2 linked regions of the Homo sapiens genome follow. The protein of the gene in region 1 interacts with the protein of each later gene in a pairwise test. Each region holds a gene or a part of one and is shown on either strand. Other genes may lie near its edges. The genes, in order: EPB41 and TJP2.

Region 1 (11,021 bases):
GTCCAGTCCTTGCCTCCCATCTTCTCTCCGCAGAGCGCCCAGACGACGGCGAGATGACGGCCGGGAGCCCCGAAGAATGCGGGGAGGTGCGGAGGAGCCCCGAGGGCCGCGTCTCTCGCTTGGGCCGCCGCCTGGGCCGCCGCCGGCGCCCGCGCTCCCCGCCCGAGCCTCTGCGGGTGCGGGCGCGGCTGCGGCTGCGCTCGCCGTCGGGGGCGTTCGCGGCGCTGGGGGCGCTCGTGGTACTGGTGGGTATGGGCATTGCAGTGGCCGGCTACTGGCCGCACCGGGCCGGGGCCCCAGGGTCCCGGGCCGCCAATGCCAGCTCGCCCCAGATGAGCGAGCTGCGACGCGAGGGTCGCGGCGGGGGCCGGGCTCACGGCCCGCACGAGCGGCTGCGGCTCCTCGGGCCGGTGATCATGGGCGTCGGCCTGTTCGTGTTCATCTGCGCCAACACACTGCTGTATGAGAACCGAGACTTGGAGACGCGACGGCTCCGCCAGGGGGTGCTGCGGGCCCAGGCGCTCCGGCCCCCCGACGGCCCGGGCTGGGACTGCGCCCTCCTTCCCAGCCCCGGCCCTAGGAGTCCCCGAGCCGTAGGCTGCGCAGAGCCAGAAATCTGGGACCCGTCCCCGCGTCGGGGTACTTCACCCGTCCCGTCAGTGCGGAGTCTGCGTTCAGAGCCCGCTAATCCTCGCTTGGGGTTACCTGCCTTGCTCAACAGCTACCCGCTGAAGGGCCCCGGGCTGCCCCCACCCTGGGGTCCACGGACGCAGACTGGCCATGTGATCATCACCGTGCAGCCGTCTGGCTCCTGCATTGAACATTCCAAGTCTCTGGATCTGGGCCTTGGGGAGCTCCTCCTTGGGGCCCCAGCAGCTCGGGACTGTGCTCACCGAAGCTGGCCACGGCTGGACCGCCTCAGTCTTGGGGGCTATGCCAAATTGGGAGGAGGAGGGGACTTGGGGGCCCGGGTCTGAAGAGAGGGGAGACAGCCTGCTCTGAGGCTGCAGCATGGACCATGCTAATAGGACCAAAGGACCAGGAGTCCCAACGTCTAATAGATGTTTCAGTCACATCCCAGGCTGGGGATGGATGCTCTGACCACAGCAGCTGTGAAGGGCATCCTGACCTGCATGCGGGCAGAGAAATGCCAGCTGCACCAGGGCTCAGTGAGCTGGAGAGGGTGCGTTTCACTGTGGGGTGTGGAGGACTCGCCTCAGGAATTTCTTCAGCCTCTGTAAGTGGCCTTAGCCCTAACAGGGCTGGAGGTCCAGGCCAGGGTGACTGGGAGATGTACCCAGTGTCTTGGCAAACCCAAGAAAGTGGTGGGCAAGGGCCCCTAAGACTGGGAGGTAGGTTGGGATGTTACAGGCTGGGGCAGGCTCCCTCCAAGGCGGCACTGGTGATGGAGTGTGGGGCCTCTGGGAAGATGGACCACGGGATGAGACTCTCCACTGCCATCTGGGACGGGGACTGAGCCTTGAACTCCTACCACCTCAATCCCTTTCTTCCCTCAGCCATCTGGGGTATATCCCTCTAGAGCTACACTACTGCCAATGCCTTCATACTGAGTTCTGGGCCCTTCTGCAAATAAGTCTGAGAAGCCCCTTCTCTCCTTCCTTTATCGTGGCCTATGCTGCAGAATCTCACTGCAGCTGGCAAAAGGCATTGGCCAGCTCTCAGAAATCCCTTTACTCAACGTTGAAGCTGCATTTTGGTCAATGTGGGTAACTTACTTTAGAAAATGACTTGAGTTTAGGTCTCCCCCACCCATATTTAATTTTTCCCAAGTTGCTGGTAGAAGAGAAATTTAAAAGTGGATCAATCCTCACAGAGAGAGTTCTTTTTGTTGTTGTTTATTGAAAAAAATGCAATACAAGAAGCAAGACCAAACAGATATCTAAACACTACAACCACTTCTACTACGAAAGGCCAAAACAGCAGACTTGATTATTGCCTGTGTAGTCTAAAGATTCTGCCAATCTGATTCTGCTGCCCGAGTTCCTATTTTTTCAAGAAATGTAAACAACTACTTGATATGATTCATAATTTTAAAAAAAATTTACAAAGCTCCTTCATTTTTGTCACCAAAATAATACATTTGAGAGAGATTTGTAGAAACAACCAGCCTGGGGCTGAGATCCTGGGCAGAAATTTCCCGTGAGCATCAAAAGGCGTCAGTCAGGCCGCAGCTCTGGCTCCAGTTCCCGAGGTTTGTTGTCTCCTCACCCCCAGCTGCCAAGCATCCCCCCAACACACACTGATGGGCCCAGCGGTGGAGGGGGGGGTGGGGACGGGGATGGGTCACGGGGCCCTGACGGGTCCCGCAGTTAGGCTCCCTGAGCCCTCGGCTTATAAATACAGGTCTTGCTTTGTGGGTGGGTGCCAGAGTCCTCATGTGGCTTGGAGGAAATCTTTATTTCTCAAATTAAAATAAAATTGCAGCGAGAGTTGTTACTGTGGTGTGTCTGAGTCACTCTAGGAAAACTGTTGCCAAGTTTCTGACCCTGGAAATGTAATTCTCTTCCCCCTCCTCACCATTTCTACCTGGACAGAGTCTGTTTTTCTTCACACAAACACACATACACACAACTGCAGAAAGAAAAAAAATCCAAACAATTGCCAAACCCCAAGAACTGTTGCCAGAGATGGAGGAAAGGGGAAGAGGCCTGGAAGGACACCCATCTTGCTGGGCTTGTCCAAATCTATGGCTTCTAAGAGCCTGAAAGGCATTAGAGCTCTTTTCATCCAATTTACAGACAACGAAGCCGAGAGAAGTGAGTTGGTGACAGAGCTGAGGGAAACGTTTAGGCCCCCGATGAACGGTCCTGTGCTGTGAAAGCTGCCACACTGTTCTAGATCACACGGAATATTCAGTGGGTTAGTTTTTAAAGGGACACTCAGTGCCCTCTGCCTTTTCCCCATCCTCTTCGTTCCACAGGTCTGGAAGCCCTGGTAGCTCTTCCTACAGGCCATCTGGCCATCAGGCAGTGGGCATGCACTACATGTTCGTTTGATGTAAGCTGCATTTCTTGTCACCACTCCTGGCAACACGACCAGGCTTGGGCACTACCCCAAAGCCCACCTTTCAGACCCTCTGCCCACAGCCTATAATTTTGTTCCTGAGATAGGACAAGCTCTTTCCCCTAAGCCTGTCCCACGTCCCACCTGGGCTCTTTCCCTCCCTCCTGTTGTTCATGTCTCACATGGGTACCAAAAGAAAAATGCACACACCCGAAATGAGTTCAAACCAGCCGAAACAAAACTCAGGCAGTGGAGACTTTGGACGGTGTTGGGAGAAGCAGCTTTAGACATTTCTCTTGCTCACTGCCCTTGAGCCCCAGTGACTGCTGCCCGATACCCACTGTCTATTTTAGGAAGCTGGAACTGGGATTCTAAGGAGCCTTGAGGCCAATGTGTTTGTGGGAAGCAGTTGGAAGGTTAGAGAAGTTCTGTTAAATAAAAATGCCCCAAATCGGCCGGGCGTGGTGGCTCACACCTGTAATCCCAGCACTTTGGGAGGCCAAGGTGGGTGGATCACCTGAGGTCAGGAGTTCGAGACCAGCCTAACAAGGTGAAATCCCGTTTCTACTAAAAATACAAAAAATTTGCTGGGCGTGGTGGTGTGCGCCTGTCATCCCAGCTACTTGGGAGGCTGAGGCAAGAGAACTGCTTGAACCCAGGAGGCGGAGGTTGCAGTGAGCCGAGATCGCGCCACTGCACTCCAGCTTGGGCAACAAGAGCGAAACTCCGTCTCAAAAAAACAAAAAACTATGCCCCAAATCCTTACCAGGAATTAGGGCATCATCTTCACTTTCAAAAATCAAAATGAAAAAAAGGAAAACTAAGCCCCAAACCCACCACAAAATCAAGCCTTCAAAACCTGACAGACCTCAGCTGGTGAGTGGGAATGAGCAGGGCTGGGGCTTATACCCCTTGTCATGTGGTGTCTTGTGGGGAGAACGGCTCCTAAAAGTCAATTCCTTGCTCTAGAAGGGTGTCCTCAGGCAGGTTCCTGTTGAGAGAAGAAAGGTCAAAAAAGAAAAACCCTTCTCTGAGCCACATTCCTTGTCATTTGGGATGAAAGAAAGGCCCAGGATCAGACAGAAGTAACCCCATTCCCCTGTGTGAAGTGCACACTCTCAAAACTAGAAAACCTTATTTTAAAAACCTCATTAACTTTCCTTCCCCAAATCACCACTAAAAATGTTCCATTAGAGCTTTTGGCCCAAAGTGCCTATTTTTCTGTGAGATTTGGTCTCCTGAGATGGGAGCTAGGGGGAGCACTTAGCTGAGCCACTGCTTCTGATGAGGTAAAAGGGTAGCTGGAGAGGTGAAGGCCACGGATATGTTCAAACATTCACAGTATCAGATATCTGAAGCAACTTCCATGTCTTTGACCCAAAGAAGCTCCAAAAAGAAAGCAGGAGGGAGAGGGGAAAAACAATACTACATTCTCAGCAGAGGGCTCTGCCTTACCAAAACCACCCGCAACAAAGGAACAGGGGCATCTTTCCGAGGTCTGTGGATCAGGGCTGGTGCCCTCCCTGGCATTCTGATACACTCACATCACTGGCTCTGAGAAAGGGCTGGTTCATGAAGTTTCTGCCATCATCCAAAGGGGATAAGACTAGGGAGAGACGCGGAAGTCCCACTAAGCTGGCTTTGGCTTCCAACACAGCTGACAAGAGTCCTTGGAGGATTTCCCGAAGAATTCCATGGACCCTGTCAGTGTCTGTTGGGGTTGGAAATAAATGGGCAGAGAGGCTAGGCTGAAGGGGTTACAAACCACCCAATTAAAAAAACCCCAAAACTCTTAAAACAGTCTATAGAGTGAAAAGTTGAACAATTCTGATATCCTAATATAGAAAAAGCTCTTCAAAAGGATCAATGAGATCTAGAAGAATCTCTTGGTATAAACTCCCAATAGAAACTGAAATTAATTTTCTGGTGATTTAGAATAATCTTGAAAGTCTGAAGTCTGACTATGGCAGGTTAGCTTCTTTATCATTTTGCTGGTTTCTCTTGGATGGGAGAAGGGCAGAGTTGGGGTAGGTTAGTTCCTAGAGAAAACAAAGAAGCAAAATTTAAAATCCTGCAAAGGAAAAAGCTTCCTAGTCCCATTGCCAAGTTCCTGTGGCCATCAGTGACAATGGGGATGTGAGCAGGTTTACAGGGCCTGGTCCCACCTAGTGAGATTGGTGGCTTCTTCAAGTCTTTTTAAAATTACTTTTAGGCATGAATTTATCTGGATCCCTGGTTCCCAAAAAGCAGCTTCCCTGCTCCCAGCTCTCTACTCTGGTCTCAGAGCTTCAGCCATTACCTCCCTGCTCTGCATGCCCACCCATCTCCAGACAGCCTGATCCTGCTCTTCTTGGTTTTTTCTCCTCTGGCTTTCCCAGGTTCTGGCTCAAAGATACCTGTGACTGGCCAGGCGCGGTGGCTCATGCCTGTAATCCCAGCCCAGCACTTTGGGAGGCCAAGCCAGGTGGATCATTTGAGGTCAGGAGTTCGAGACTAACCTGGCCAACATGGTGAAACCCCGTCTCTACTAAAAATACAAAAATTAGCTGGGCATGGTGGCACATGCCTGTAGTCCCACCTTCTTGGGAGGCTAAGGCAGAATTCCTTGAACCCGGGAGGCGGAGGTTGCAGTGAGCTAAGATCATGCCACTGCACTCAAGCCTGGGTGACAGAATGAGACTCCGTCTCAAAAAAAAAAAAAAAAAAAGAGAGACCTGTGACAGCAGCAAGCAGAGCAGTAGAGAGAAGAGAGGGGGAAGGTGAAGTGGATCTCCAGCAGGATGCATGAAGACTCAGAGGGTAGCTGGGGGCTTATATCCAAGTTTGGGTCCCTCCTCTTACCCAATAATGCTGGCACTGCTACAGGCTGCTTTAGTTGGAGCCAAATACTTAATTTCCTATATCTCCCACATCAGCCTCTCGTCTGCCTTTATCAAGTCCCAGGGTGAACACCTCTTTGTGGGGATGGGCTCCCAGTGTGTCCGAGGGTCCCATCCAGAGCCCTCTCAGGCTGGGACTGTGGGCACCCTCAGCCCCAGCAGGAACGCCCAGTACCTGAGCTCACTCATCAGCAATCTCGGTCTCCTGGTGGACGACCACCTTGGTCACTGACATGTCTGGGTGCTGCTCCTTTGCCTCCTTGATGGCTTGTACAAGGACCTACAAAAGACAGAAACAAGGGCAATGAGGCAGAAAATAGCCTGATGGCGAAGGAAGGCAGTGGTCATCATTTCTCTGATGTTCTGACAGATCCAATACTCCTGTCTGCAGTACCAGGGCAGCTTTAGGCTAAGCCAAGCTGATAATTACCTTACCCACCCTATCCTGCATAGGGAGGCTTCTGGACTGATAACACAGGGACAGGGAAGGTTAGCGCTGTCTTCTAGGAACTGGAGAGGGACTTCGGGGGTCATAGCTGTATCTGTTATATGATCCTTTATTTTTTTTTTATTTTTTGTTGTTGTTGAGATGGAGTCTCGCTCCGTCACCCAGGCTGGAGTGCAATGGTGCAATCTCGGCTCACTGCAACCTCCGCCTCCCAGGTTCAAGCAGTTCTCCTGCTTCAGCCTCCTGAGTAGCTGGGATTACGGGTGTGTACCACTACGCCCAGCTAATTTTTGTATTTTTTGTAGAGATGGGGTTTCACCATGTTGGCCAGACTGGTCTCGAACTCCTGACCTCAAATGATCCACCTGGCTTGGCCTCCCAAAGTGCTGGGATGACAGGTGTGAGCCACTGCACCTGGCCTATATTATCTATTATACCTATCTATTATCTATCATTATACCTGGAGGGTCTGAGAGGATTCACTCAAGATGTGAATCTAAAGGACAAAACAACATCTGTGTTCAGCATGGGTAAGTGGCAAGTTCAGGACGGGAGAGGAAAGTAAAGAAGTGTGCAAGAAAAAGGAAGAGATGTCCTTGGCCAAAGTAGAAGAAAGGAAGGAAGAGGACAAGGGACTGTTATATGCCATGCACTAGCCTAAGTACATTACTTATTACTTAAACTCTATTAAGTTATAATTTATTAATAACTATATTGTTATTAAGATAATAACTATTATCATTACTTTTTACTTAAACATGACAACTTAGTGCATTAAGGTAATGTAATTTTTTGCATTTTATAGGTGAGGAAACTGAATTTCAGTAAAGAGCTTACTGTTTCATAGCTAGTAGGTAGTGAAACAGGGACTTTTTTTTTTTTTTTTTTTTTTTTAGACGGAGTCTCACTGCCCAGGCTGGAGTGCAGTGGTGTGATCTTGGCTCACTGAAACCTCTGCCTCCTGGGTTCAAGCGATTCTTGTGCCTCAGCCTCCCAAGTAGCTGGGGTTACAGGTGTCCGTGACCACGTCTGGCTAATTTTTGTATTTTTAGTAGAGACAGTGTTTTGCCACCTTGGCCAGGCTGGTCTCGAACTCCTGACCTCAGGTGATCCACCTTGCTCGGCCTCCCAAAGTACTGGGATTATAGGCGTGAGCCAACGCACCCAGCCGTGCAATAGGGATTTTAACTCAAGTCGATCAGACTTTCCTCTTTACCACACTGTTGTTTAGTTTCTGAGGGGGTCCCTGTTTGAGGATCTGGAGGAGCTTTGATTACTTTAGAAAAGCTAAAGAGAGCAGAGGGAAAGTCAAAAGAGCAAAAACACCATCCTCTTTGGGCTGCAGTCTCTGAATTTGCAGGCTCCCCTATGGAAAAGGACTCAGCTAGAAATGACCAGCTGACTACTCACCTGGCTCTTAAGAACCATCTCTAGAAGGGGCAAGGGAAGAAGGAAAACCCTCTTCTGGTCTCCTGGCTCTATGAATGGCATTCTTAGAACTACCACCTCTGTGGGCCCCTGACCATCCTCCCTGATCCTGTTTGCCCAACCCATCTGCTCACACCTCAGGCCCAGCTCAAGTCTTCTCTTTGTGACTCTGCCTCCGCCCACCTCTCTATGAAACCTGCTGCTCCACACTGCTTCTCCTTAACAGTTCTTAAAGTGCCTCCCTCGCCAGCCAGAGTGTACCATAGCTTACCCCTTCCATGCACTCTCAGTAACTAGAAAACCTGAGGGACACTGGAGCATCTCTCTGAGCTACCAAGTGTGTTTGGCCCTTATGACCCTGGAAGAAACCTGTGATCATCCTTATTTTACAGATGGTAAAACTAGAGCTCAGGTTGGTAATATAAGTTGCTCAAGGACATATAACCAATTAGGTCGCAGAGTCAGGATTCAGCCCAAGTCTGTCTCACTCCAAACCTCAAACACCTTTCACCGCATTGCTTTTGCTGTCTAGTGCAGACTGAGCACGTAGCAGGGGCTCAGATCACACCAGACTGAGTGGGTGGGTGCAGGCTTCTAAAGCAGCGGGACCCACTGAGCTGGGCCAACAGGCTGCAAGATATTTAGGCTTTGCAGCCTTGTTTCTGGGACCCTGTGTCCACTATTCTCAGCTGTAACTCTCAACCCTGCCTCCAAGGGAACTGCCAGCACTGTAGCTCAGTTTTTCTTTTTTTAAAGGCACTCAGCATATCAGCATAAAAAGGCCACAGAATTATTGCTCCAGCAACCCAGTCAACGATTCCAGAAGCATTTGCATGCAATCTCTTCCACCCCCTCTTCTCTGCAGCTTTACTGTTCTAACCTCACCCAGCAGAGAACTGGGAACATTAATCCTGACCTTATTATTTGCTAATTGCTTGCAGCACACAATTAGCACCCAATTAACATAAAAATATAGAATTTTAGCACTCAGGCCCAGAAATTATCTAGATCAACCCACTCTCTTTTAGGAAAGGAGAAAAAAATCAGCGGAAAAGTGATTTGCCCAAGGTCACACAGCAAGTTAGAGATGTAGGGCAGAAAACAAGTTTCGAGTCTGCTGGTGTCTTGTCCACCATACTATGCTCCCGCTCGTGTCTTCTCGGCTGTTACAGCTCTCTAAGGGTAGGGGCATGCTTCCCTTTGTTTTGATGTTGTCTAGCATGGGTTCAGGTACCTTTACCTTCGGAATAACAATAGCTCCATTTAACTGAGCTCACCATGTGCCACCAGCTGTTCATCCAGTATTTCACCTGATTCTCACAACAACCCTGAGAGGGAGATACTATCATCTTCATCTTACAGATGCAAAATGGAGGCCCAGAGAGTTAACAGCTAGAATATATTAAGAACCAGCAATTGAATCAAGTCTTGGAATCCAAAGCTCATGTTCTTTCCATTACATTTCCTGGCTCCTCAATCTGTGGCCTCCATCCCACAGGCCTCTTACTTTGATTGTCTTTGTCTTTCTTCTCAATTAAGAGCTAGAGTGGCCAAAGAGGCTTTTTGCAGATGAAGATGGCAAACAAACTCCTGTATTCATCGGTCTTCCTGCCCAGGGACCCCTCCCAGGCCCAGATCTCTTCAACATTCCCACCTGATCATGGTCAATATCAGCATCTCCTGTGATCACAATTCTCTTTTCAATACGTGTCTCTGAAATCCCACCTTTTACAGTCTGGAACCAAAGAGAAGATGTCATATGAGATCAGCGATATAACAAGAATTAAAAAAAAAGAAAAAGAGGCCAGGTTTAGTGGTTCACACTTGTAATCTCAACACTTTGGGAGGCTGAGATAGGAGGAATGCTTGCGGCCAGGAGTTTGAGACCAGCCTGGGCAACATAATGAGACCTCGTCTCTATTAACAAACAAACAAACAAAAAAAGAAAAATAGCAAAGATTATTCCGAAAGCTCCACTCCAAATTTTAATCTACTGCTGGGTACTGCAAAGGACAGCTTTCTAACCTACTTGTCCAAAATCTCAACCAGACCTGCTACTTCTACTCCCTTGTAGAGTACACTTCTACTCCCCTGGATTATTAAAATCTTTGTTTTTTTTTTTTTTTGAGACAGAGTCTCGCTCTGTTGTCCAGGCTGGAGTGTAGTGGTGTGATCTCGGCTCACTGCAACCTCTGCCTCCCGGGTTCAAGCAATTCTCCTGCCTCAGCCTCCTGAGTAGATGGGACTACAGGCACGCACCACCATGCCCAGCTAATTTTTGGATTTTTAGTAGAGATGGGGTTTCACTATGTTGGCCAGGCTGGTCTCAAACTCCTGACCTTGTGATCCACCCACCTCAGCCTCCCAAAGTGCTTGGATTACAGGCGTGAGCCACCACATCCAGCCTTGATTACTACAATCTTTTTTATTTATTTATTTATTTATTTTTTGAGACGGAGTCTTGCTCTGTCGCCCAGGCTGGAGTACAGTGGTGCGATCTCGGCTCACTGCAAGCTCTGTCTACTGGGTTCACACCATTCTCCTGCCTCAGCCTCCCAAGTAGCTGGGACTACAGGCGCCTGCCACCACGCCCGGCTAATTTTTTCTATTTTTAGTAGAGACGGGGTTTTTTGTCAGCTAGGATGGTCTCGACCTCTTGACCTCGTGATCTGCCCGCCCCGGCCTCCCAAAGTGCTGGGATTACAGGTGTGAGCCACCGCGCCCAGCCTGGATTACTAAAATCTTTATTAAGCTAAACAGAAAGTCACAATTCTGTATTTACTTTCTCCTTTTTCTTCCTCCTGAATACCACAGAAATCTAGCAAGTAAACAAAATAGGACTTTCTGTGCTCTTCTCTCATACATTTCTGTTTTAGAGACTGGATACTGATGCTATACATTTTAATTGATCATTTTCTTTTTCTTTTTTTTTTTTTGAGATGGAGTCTTGCTCTGTTGCTCAGGCTAGAGTGCAGTGGCATGATCTTAGCTCACTGCAACCTCCGCCTCTTGGGTTCAAGTGATTCTCCTGCCTAAGCCTCCCGAGTAGCTGGGACTATAGGCGTGTGCCACCATGCTCGGCTAATTTTTATTTTTTTAGTAGAGATGGGGTTTCGCCATGTTGGCCAGGCTGGTCTTGAACTCCTGATCTCAGGTGATCCGCCCGCCTTGGCCTCCCAAAGTGTTGGGATTACAGGCATGAGCCACCATGATCATTTTCAAGAGGAAAAAAATCTGAAGGC
Region 2 (11,048 bases), on another chromosome or scaffold:
CTCCTGCCAGTCACTGTGGGGGATACAAAGATGAACAAGATTCAATTTCTGCATTTAGGGGTCTAGTGGACCTGAAACTGTTAGACTTTACTCTGCAATCTGTGTCGGGATTCCTGAGACTGAGGGAGGGAATGTATGATGCCGATGCACACTCTGCAATACAGAAATTTAGCAAAGAGTGGGATTGGTCCTATATGCATTCCCTTCAGGGGATTCTTGCTGGGAATAAAGGGCATTTGAACAGTTACCTCACCCGAGCAAGCCACTATAGAAAATGGGGCCAGTAATGCGCCCACCTCACCGGGCTGAGTGAGGTCTGAATGAAATGACAGAGAGTACAAGGCATGTGGTGGATGCTACGTAAATGGTGGTAGCTAGTAATAGGAACAAAACGGGTGCTGAAAACTCTTAAGTGTTGGGTCCTGGGTTGATAAGGGAGGTGAGATCTAAAGATACAAGTAGGAGGTGCCAGGTAGGTGTCCAGGAAAAAACTGAAAGAGTTGTTGTTCACACTCTGTTAAAAGGCCTTGAAGGCCATAACGAAGCTTTGGGTGGGGGGAAGTCAGAAATCCCTCATGTATTAAATGACTTGACTTTCCCTACAAAAGAAGCGAACCAGTTTCCCAGTAAACATCCCACCCCATAACTATTTTTGAGGCATTCATAGGCTTAAGACCAATGAATTTTTACATCACCCCCGGGGGAATTGCATTTGCAATGACTTCTGCCTACATTTAACTTTTGATCTAGTTCTTTGTACACTGACAAAAGTTCACAGCCAACCATTTCTCTTCAGGACAAGTGTGAGAACTTTCTGCATACTGCTGAAGGCAAGGGAGATTTTGAGTTTAGCAAGGTTTTCTCTCCTTAAGAAGGTTATCTTTTTACGAGACACAAGTTATTGAAACTAGGCGGGGCCACTTTAGTCCTGTGTACAATAATATGTGTAGTAATATAAATAGTAATTTAAAAAGTCATGCAGACTTGGTTGGGGAGAGGCATGAAGTTTGGGTGTGGTGGGGGCGGGGTGAAGCGGTAGAAGGGTTCGCAATCACTGCTGAAACTTTCAACATATTCTACCAACAATATGAGCCACCAGGGAATTCCTTGCCTCATCTCTAGAACGAATCCCATTAAGCAGTTGTGGCTACAGATGAATTTATCTAGGTTGAGAGCTGATTCCCAATAACATGCCTCATTGATTTGACTCTAAGCAGTAATCAGGGGCCCAACAGTTGTTGGACCAACCAGCCTTGATTTTCCAGAGAAGGTGATTTGGTATATGGTAGTGTCTGAGGGTGAGATTGCCCCAGATGGGAGTGGAGGGAAGCAGAACAGTTTTCTCTGGTGTTTTACTGAGTTTTTGTCTTGATCCTAAATCCAAGGGTTAGGGTCAGAAACACAGACTCAGAGGTTAGATTTAACACCCATTTAGTGGGTTAAACACATCAATGGTTATGTGAACTTTGTTAAGGTTTAAAAAGCTATTTAGGGCCTGTTTCTCCCTCATAGGAATTTTTGCAATCAGCCTTTTTAGTAGATGCCCATATAGAAAGTGAATTTGGGAGGGTCTAAGGTGGTATTACTATTAAACTTTTTGAAAAGGCTGTGTGATAGCAATGGAAAAAAAAATTCAGGCATGGAAATCCAATATGCAGTATTGCAGTAGCTAGTTTTAATTTTATTTTTGTTTTTTTGGTTTTTTTTTTGGAGATGGAGTCTTGCTCTGTTGCCCAGGCTGAAGTGTGGTGGTGCGGTCTTGGCTCACTGCAACCTCTGCCTCCCGGGTTCAAGCGGTTCTCTTGCTTCAGCCTTCAAAGTAGCTGGGATTACAGAAGTGAGCCACCGTGCCCGGCCACTAGTTTTAATTTTGGATGGTACCTAGGAAAGCAGTTGAGCTAGTATGCTGCATACATTGTAGTGTGAGAGGCAGAGTTCCGAGTTGGAGAGTGTCTGCTTCCACTTTTTCCATTTGATTAGGAAAAGCACTTCTTAGAACTGGGTGACTGACAGCTAGAGCCCCAGAAGACCTGCACAAGCTGGGGCAATGGCTACCCATAACAGTGACGGCTCCATTCTGTTTTTTAAAGGGATTGGTGTCTCTATCATCCAGCTGGCCATTAAACAACCAAAGCTTCATCATCCTAGATAACCTGTGAGCTCTCAGAGGAGACAGAGTAAGGACTATCATACCCCCAAAATACCTAATCATTTAATAAAGCATTTTCTCTACCTTTTATGCTATCCCAAAACAGTGCTTTCCAAAGTCTGGTATACAGACAGACTTACAGGTGGTGCAGAGAGATACATATTCTATTTTTCAATTATGATGCATGAATATTATATGTTAGGAATAAAAACAGAAAACCAGCTACCACATCCATTTATTTCATGGCTAGATTGCTTAGAATGAGGCAAAAATAAATATTAAGTAAAGCAGTGAGTTTGCTTTAAGAAAAATTATCAACTCTGGGAATGAGTAATATGAGGCTAAGGCAAAAATGGTAAAGCTAGCCCTTGACATCTGAGGTGTGCATAATACTGCTTAAAATATGAGTGTGGTGCTTACTTATAGAGAGCCTGGTATACCTTGACCACGCCTTCAAGAAAGTCAAACACAGAATGGCCCAGAATAGCCAGGAAAGTTGAATTTGATGGACTTTCTGTCTTAAGCGTGTGCATCCTGCTCTTATCCACTCAGATCTCTTAGATGTGGTTGCAGACAGTGTATTTGTAGAGCTAGCTGTTTGTTTTAACGTCTGGCCCAATTCTCATTCCTTTCTCTGCTTCCACAAGCCATTCTGCAGTTTTTAAAGGTCTGTTGGTATGATATTTTTGATATGATAGAGTGATAGGGGAGGAAGTATTTTGACACTGATGAAGGACATCACTGTATTATCAAGTGACTCTTGCTCATGATTCATTGCCGAAGAATGTGGACAGCCAAACAGCCTCACCTGTAAATGCATTTAATTTCTCAAAGTCTTTCAGAAGAATGCCAACTGGATGAGTTTTTTTTTCTTATTTTTTTTTTAATATGAAGCTTGTATTGGTCTGTAAAATAGGCTTTAACAAGGATTTTCGTAGGAACAGGAAGCCTTGAGGTAGAAAACAAGTATCCCTGCTTTGACCTAGAGAGATGCATGCTCATGGCAGGCGAATGAATCAAGGAGAAGAGAAAATACTGTTTCAGTAGACTCTCTAGTGATGTGTGTGTTCACACCATTTATGAGAAATCCTAAGCTTTCAATTAGTAACTTGTACTTTAGTCATTTAAAATCAGCACAGATGTTTGTTTAGTGCCTCTGCCAGATGGTTAAAGTTAAATCAGGTTTTTTAACCTGAAAAACGTAATGTAGCTTTCCTTAACCATTTACACACCATTGTATATTGCAGACCATAGTCAGATACATTTTGTTATAATGAATGTTTATTTTACCTTTTAGCTCAATTAGAATATCAGTGGTTATGGTTTCTATTTTGTTTTCCTACAGTTACTGTATGGGGGTGCAGTAACAGCGGTGGTGGTGAAAGTAAGTTACTTTTTTCTTTTTCTTTCTTTTTTTTTTTTTTTGAGACGGAGTCTCCCTCTGTCGCCCAGGCTGGAATGCAGTGGTGCGATCTCGGCTCACTGCAAGCTCCACCTCCCGGGTTCACGCCATTCAGCCTCCCCAGTAGCTGGGACTACAGGCGCCCGCCACCACGCCCGGCTAATTTTTTGTATTTTTAGTAGAGACGGGGTTTCACCATGTTAGCCAGGATGGTCTTGATCTCCTGACCTCGTGATCCACCCGCCTCGGCCTCCCAAAGTGCTGGGATTAGAGGTGTGAGCCACCGCGCCCGGCTGAAAGTGAATCTCTTAATGGATCTTCCATGAATCAAATATTTGTGTTTTAGTAAGTTAGGCTGACCAAAAGATTTCGAATCATACCTTTAATCATGGCAAGGATCTTATGTCACATTCTTGAGTACACATGTTCACTAAATTTTACCTATATGTGTATGTGAACATGGACTTCAGAATTAATTAGTGTGGTAATTATTATTTCTATTGTAGACTTTAATCAGCCATATTAAATATATGCATTATGTTCACAGAGAAAACATGGTATCATCTTTGGAAACTTTACAGTATGCTCTATATTATAGATACCCTATATAACTATGGTACTAAACACACGAGTTAGTGACAAGTCAGGCATTTGGAGGGAATGTTTGTAACCCATTGTGGGAGAGAGTTATTAGAATAGTTATTCTTACTGGTAGGTAACAGTTATGGCTGTAATGAATAGAATGTGACTAAAATCCAGTTATGCCTTTGCCATCGTATTAAAAGCTTTGGTGGAGACGTGAGAACATTGCAGATACTTTGGATTTTGTCACTTGAGTTGAAGGTAAACAGAGAAAACAGTACTTTCTAGTCATCAGTAGGAATTAACTCTTCCAGGACATGTAGCTTCAAGGACCTTCTAGGTTCTTCTGAGGGGGAAATAATGTTCCACTTGGGGCCATTTTTTTCCATTTGTTGAGAGTCATTTGTTTTCAGAGTATTAAAGGAAGTGTTCCGAGTTCTAGGTTGTGTTTCTTTGATGCCTACTAAAGCTGAGCACACCTGAGACCCTGGGTGGAGCTCTACAATGGGAATAGGAGTAAGTAATGTAGGCTTCGAGAGACAATCATTCTGCTCTCAGTCCTTGGAAGACTGTTCCTAGGTATATATGGCAAAGCAGATGAAATTATTTGAGGGAATTAATTAGCAAAACTAAACATTTCTGTTTTTGAAAGGAATGAATCATTTGGAAGGAACTTCCTGGTGAGCTCAGTTTTAGCAGCCTGGTTTCTGCGTTACCCTTCTGCAGTCTGGCTGAATCAATTGTGTTCTTGCCTGTGATTGGTGAGGATGCACATGCTAGTATTTATTCTAGCCCTTATCACTTCCCATCAGCCCTGAGCCCCTCCCTGGTCTGAGTCATCTTGGTAACCCCAGAAGCTAACAGAGCACCAACACATCCACTAAACGTTGGACTGACTTGATTTGGGGCAGGCTTGTTGTATAAGCTAGTAGGAATAAGAGACTAATTGAGAAATTAGGACAGTGGATTCCTGACATTTATATAGTGAGTAGATGATCGTTTGTTAGAATTGCGAATTTCATCCAGAGAATTTTGTCCAAAAAAAATTATAGAATTTCATCTAGACCATTTTTGTAATGGCATGGAAGCAGCATTAGCTGCACCACTGATTAGCTGGGTGGCTTTTGCTGTCTTGTGACTCTAGTTTGCAATTTCTTTTTTTTTTTTTTTTTTTTTTTTTTGAGGTGGAGTCTAGCCCTATCGCTGAGGCTGGAGTGCAATGGCCCGATCTCAGCTCACTGCAACGTCTGCCTCCTAGGTTCAAGCGATTCTCCTGCCTCAGCCTCCCAAGTAGCTGGGATTACAGGCACACGCCACCACACCCTGCTAATTTTTTGTATCTTTGGTAGAGACGGGGCTTCACCATGTTGGCCAGGCTGGTCTCGAACTCCTGAGCTCGTGATCCGCCTGCCTTGGCCTCCCGAAGTGCTGGGATTATAGGCATGAGCCACCTCGCCTGGCCTAGTTCTCAGTTTCTTTATCAGAAAATGAGTAGTTACAGTTGATCATCTCAAAGTCTTTTGTGCTTAAGATTCTGAAGGTTTTGAAGTTTGAGTATAAAGCCTAGAGAACATTCTAAATTATTTCCATTGGTTCTTCTCATCTTAAAATGTTTTTGTGCTCCTTAAACTACGTTTGTGTTTGCTTGCTTGCTTTCTTTTTTTTTTAGAGATCCAGTGGATTATCTCTGAAAAGCATTTTTTAAAAAGACAGAGTCCAAGAGTGGCTGGTAGTTGTTTTGCTCATAAAGTGATGGAAAGATCTATTATTCAGTTGCAGCTTAAATTATGTACCAGCACCACGTGTGCTGGATTCTCTTCCTTACTTTGCAGCTTAAGCCAGCAACTGCAACCATCTTGCAGAGCTTCTTGAGAATCCTTCTTCCTCTTCCTCTTCCTCTCCACCCCCATGGACTTCTCCCCGGGCCTCATTGCCTGTGACATACGCTTGGAAGGAGGGGCAGGCCTGCAGCTGGGAGCCCTTTCTGATTTGTTCTTCACAAATGTGTTGAAGATGAGCCTACTGGTCACTGCTGCAAAAAACCACATTGTTCACTGGTGTAAAATCACTGCTGTCATCTGAGTTTCAGCATAACTTCAGGCATGTTGGAGTTTTTCAACGTCACCTCAGGCAGAGCACTTTGCCTTCCTTGGGCTGGTCTGTTTAGTGTCTGGGTGAGTTTTAAGAGAGGAGAGACATTGTGGCATCTTAGACACTCACTGAAATTTTCCAGAAATGGAGCTGGAAACATTTGTGCGTTTCCTTCTGGTGTTATTGTTAAAGCCTAAAAACAAGGGCAAGTGGCAACACATTGAAATGAAGAAGCCCCAAGTTTGCAACACATTGAAAGGAAGAGGCCCCAAGTTCGTTTTGAGCCTAAATTGAATTTTAATCAAAGGTCTGAGAGAAATATTTAGTCTACTTATACTATTTAAGTGCACAGTTTGGCAGATGACTTTGGGCAGTGAAGGATCTGGAAGAGGCAGGAAAGGTAGACTCAATCTGCCAGACTTAGAGCTAAAAAAATTTGCCTGGTATGTTTCCATGAAGAAAATTTTCCTGTAGAAGCAGTGGCACGACCTCTGTTACAAGTCTGCTTATTGATAATGAAGCTTTTTCTGTGTTATCAATTTCGTTGAATTTATATGTATGTATATACATATACACACACACAAATCTCAAGTAGAGAGCTTGATGAATTTCTTTTTTTTTTTTTTTTTGAGATGGAGTTTCACTCTTGTTGCCCAGGCTGAAGTGCAGTGGTGCCATCTCGGCTCACCACAACCTGTGCCCTCCAGGTTCAAGCAATTCTCCGGCCTCAGCCTCCCGAGTAGTTGGGACTACAGGTGCGCACCACCATGCCCGGCTAATTTTGTATTTTTTTTTTTTTTAGTAGAGACAAGGTTTCTTCATGTTGGTCAGGCTGATCTCGAACTCCTGATCTCGGGTGATCCACCTGCCTCAGCCTCCCAAAGTGCTGGAATTACAGGCGTGAGCCATTGTGCCTGGCCAGGGAATTTTATTTATTGTGGTAAAGTACACATAACATTAAGTGTACCATTTTAACCATTTTAAAGTATAAAATTCAATGGCATTTAATACACTCACAGTATTTTGTAAACACCATCACTCTCTAGTTCCAGAGGTAGGTGAATTTTTACATGAATGTATTCACCTGCATGATTACCACCTAGATTAAAAACTAGAATTTTCCATCACTCTGGAAGGTTCTCTCTTGCCACTTTTCCAATGATTACCACACCTACCTAAAAGAGAACTTCTCTTCTGACTTCTCTCACCGTGGAACACTTTTGCTTGAACTTGGGAGAGGACCCATATATAAATAAAATCAACATTTTATGTCTGTCATCTTTCACTCAACCTAACCTCTGTGAAATTCATCCGTATTTGTTGCGTGAGATTCAGTAGTTCTTTTTTGCCACTGAGTCGTATTCCATTTATATGCATCTGTCACATTTGGCTTATCTCTTCTGTTGATAGGTATTTGGGTTATTTTCAGTGTTTTTGCTATTATGAATAAAGCTGCCATGAAAAGCACCTACACATTGCCTTGTGGACATGTACACCCATTTCTCTTGTGTGAATTCCTAGGACCATAGGTTAGGGATTTTTTAAAAAACTTATTTTAGATTAAAAAAAATATTTTTTGAGACAGTCTCACTCTGTCACCCAGGCTGGAGTGCAGTGGCATGATCTCAGCTCATTGCGACCTGTGCCTCCCAGGTTCAAGTGATTCTCCTGCTTCAGCCTCCCAAGTAGCTGGGATTACAGGCATGCGCCACTACACCTAGCTAATTTTTGTATTTTTAGTAGAGACAGGTTTCTCTTCAACTCCTGAGTTCAAGCAGTCTGCCCACCTTGGCCTCCCAAAATGCTGGGATTATAAATGCGAGCCACCACGCCCAGCCAGGTTACAGATGTTTAACTTTGATTCTTTACCTCTGAAGTCAAATAAACCTGGGTGTGAATTCTTTTGTCCTGCCACTTGCTTGCTTGACTTTGAGCAATTTACCTTTTTCTCATGTTCAGTTTTCTCAGTTGTAAAATAGGCCTACCCTATCAGTCATGGTTCAGTCAAGAAGACATGTCATTCTAGCTATTTCAAGGAGAAGGGGATTCAATACAGAGTATTAGTTGCCTTCAGGACAAAGAAAAGGCGAGATGCGCAAAAAATGGAAGCCCACCGCTGGCTTTCTGATTTGCCGCAAAAAAAGTTAGAAAGCTGCTGCCACCCAGAGAAGACTCAGAAGGTCTTGCTTGACCTTCCACCTTCTCAGCATCTCCAGCCTTGAGGCTGGTGAAAGGGCAGGGAATCTGGACATGCTGTAAAGCTCATGTCTGAGGAATCCAACTTTTGCCTGCTACTGCTGCTGTCTGTAGGAAGAAGAAAAACAAATGGCTTCTGCTTTCCTTCATCCTTCCAAATCTCAAACACGTGTACCTCGCTGGTAGAACCCTGTTGGCAAGAGAGATGGGGGATCTCTGGTAGAAACAGAAACTCAGTGCCAGCAAAGAAGAAATGGCATAGATGCCACCTGGGGTTGCTTTGAGGTGCTCAGTAAATGGCAGTGGTTATAATTTATTATTTTCATCATTCCTCAAGAACTGCTGCTGCAGTTCAGACTGATTTCTCTCTCTCTCTCTTCTTTTTTTTTTTTTTTTTTGAGACGGGCTTGCTCTGTCACCCAGGCTGGAGTGCAGTGGTGCCGTCACAGCTCACTGCAGCCTCGACTTCCCTGGCTCAAGTGATCCTCTCACCTCAGCCTCCGATTAGCTGTAACCACGGGCATGCGCCACCATACCTGGCTAATTTTTAAATATTTTGTAGAGATGAGGTCTGTCTATGTTGCCCAGGTGGGCCTTGAACTCCTGGGCTCAGGCGATCCTCCTACCTCGGCCTCCCGAAGTGCTAGGATTATAGGCGTGAGTCACCACGCTTGGGCAGCAGACTGATTTCTTTTTTTTTTTTTTTTGAGACAGAGTCTTGCTGTGTTGCCCAGGCTGGAATGCAGTGGTGCAATCTCAGCTTACTGCGACCTCTGCCTCCCGGATTCAAGCAATTCTCCTGCCTCAGCCTCCCGAGTAGCTGGGATTACAGGTGGGTGCCACCACACCCGGCTAATTTTTGTATTTTTAGTAGAGGCAGGGTTTCACCATGTTGGCCAGGCTGGTCTCGAACTCCTGACCTCAGGTGATCTGCCTGCCTTGGCCTCCCAAAGTGCTGGGATTATAGGCGTGAGCCACCGTGTCCGACCCAGACTGATTTCTGTAACGGATGTTCATTCTTTTCACTTTATAGTCACATGGATGCCACTGTAAGAGCTCCGTGTCACATAAGGTGTTGTTTTTCTGGAAGGGCCTTCCAGATTCTGTATCTATTGCTCTGTGATTCTAGGTACTTTTCTAAAGGTATAAGCTTGAGAAATTAGTTTTCAAGTCTGTAAGTTAATGTAGAGCTGAAAGGTGACTTAATTCTAAGAGTTGCTGCTTTAATGTATAATTTTATGGAACCTAATGAGTGTTTTCTTTTTAAAGTCATTCCACTTTATTATTAATAAAATAAAAGGTAATATATAAATCTGGCTGATAGATGGGGTTACTTTTTTCCCTGTCTTTAGCTTCCTTTGTGTTCTGATAAATGAGATGGAAGATTTTTATCATATTTTGTACCTCAAATCTCTCGCGGAGGGAACACTGTAGTCTACCAAAACAGCTGGCAGAAGTGTCTGTCCTATTATAAGTTTATTTTATGAAACATGAGCTATAATGTAGTCCTTTTTTTTTTTTTTTCTTTTTTTGGAGACGGAGTCTCGGTTGCGCCTGGCTAATTTTTTGTATTTTTTAGTAGAGATGGGGTTTCACCGTGTTAGCCAGGATGGCCTCGATCTCCTGACCTCATGATCCGCCTGCCTTGGCCTCCCAAAGTGCTGGGATTACAGGTGTGAGCCGCCGCGCCCGGCCAATGTAGTGGTTTTAAGACATTTAAAAATCTTGAACCAATGTTGGCAACAGCCTGTCTGTAATGATGTCACATGTGGAAAGAACCGAGTTTTTCTTAACTTTAGAATGTGAATTTTTTCCTCCTTCAAATACTTTTTCCTATAACCCAGACCTATTTTACTTTCCAGGGACCCTACTATTACTGCCCTAAGGTAATTTGCTAGAAATGGAGTGGTCAAGATGTATTGATTAACGTTTTAGGCATACTTCTGTAGTACTACTTCCGAAGGCTCCTTGCAGAGAAATTTGAAGTGATAAGGAAGGCAAATATTCGAAATGGAAAGATAAGTATAACCAGTGACTATTTCAGCCACTGGTTTAGCAGTTCAAGTGAGCTGGCTGTTTGTAAAGCTTGCTTAGTAAATGAATGTGCTAGAAATATATTGACAGAATTTGGTTTTATCTCTTTTTCTCCAGACTTTTAGTCGGCCAGGGCTAACAATGGATGTCCAAACAGTTTACAGTGGCTGATACACAATGCACAAAGGGCTTCACTGTTTGGAGACTGGAAAATAGAGCCAGAGGGGAGCTTCTTATGGGCATTGACCTAATTCACTCCTTTTGGCAAAAATGCTTGGTTTTAAATCAATGTATGTATTTCTGACCCAAATATCTATAAATATTTCAGCTAGTAGTGTTACAGCTGGAGGAAGGGACCCGTGGTGTTGCTTCGTGTATTTTGATTTGACAATATTCTTTAGAAATAAATTGTCAAGTGAACTAATATTACACAAAAGTTAGGGAAAGTTAAGAGAGGCAGCTGAAATTCCATCAGTTTCCTCCTTAGTCCCTGGAACCTCCCCACAATCAGGAATTTGTTAGTCACCTGGTTTTTAAAGATAAATTTCTCTGTGGGCGTTTCTGCTGAGAAATGTGGGGAAACAGGACTGGGCT

What was found.
Region 2: the proteins of EPB41 (region 1) and TJP2 interact in a two-hybrid assay, tested with the Homo sapiens proteins (one study listed by BioGRID).

What each region holds. Positions count from the first base shown.
Region 1 is NC_000001.11:29,110,861-29,121,881, reverse strand, and holds the end of EPB41 (protein 4.1), read right to left. Parts: intron 9,515-11,021; coding exon 9,434-9,514; intron 6,184-9,433; coding exon 6,085-6,183; 3' UTR 6,079-6,084; intron 5,064-6,078; 3' UTR 1,841-5,063; downstream 1-1,840. Other genes in the region: TMEM200B (transmembrane protein 200B), read left to right, coding at 54-977. UniProt on the Homo sapiens protein: Protein 4.1 is a major structural element of the erythrocyte membrane skeleton. It plays a key role in regulating membrane physical properties of mechanical stability and deformability by stabilizing spectrin-actin interaction. Recruits DLG1 to membranes.
Region 2 is NC_000009.12:69,175,953-69,187,000, forward strand, and holds part of TJP2 (tight junction protein 2), read left to right. Parts: intron 1-2,090; exon of another isoform or gene 2,091-2,177; intron 2,178-9,134; exon of another isoform or gene 9,135-9,252; intron 9,253-11,048. UniProt on the Homo sapiens protein: Plays a role in tight junctions and adherens junctions. Acts as a positive regulator of RANKL-induced osteoclast differentiation, potentially via mediating downstream transcriptional activity.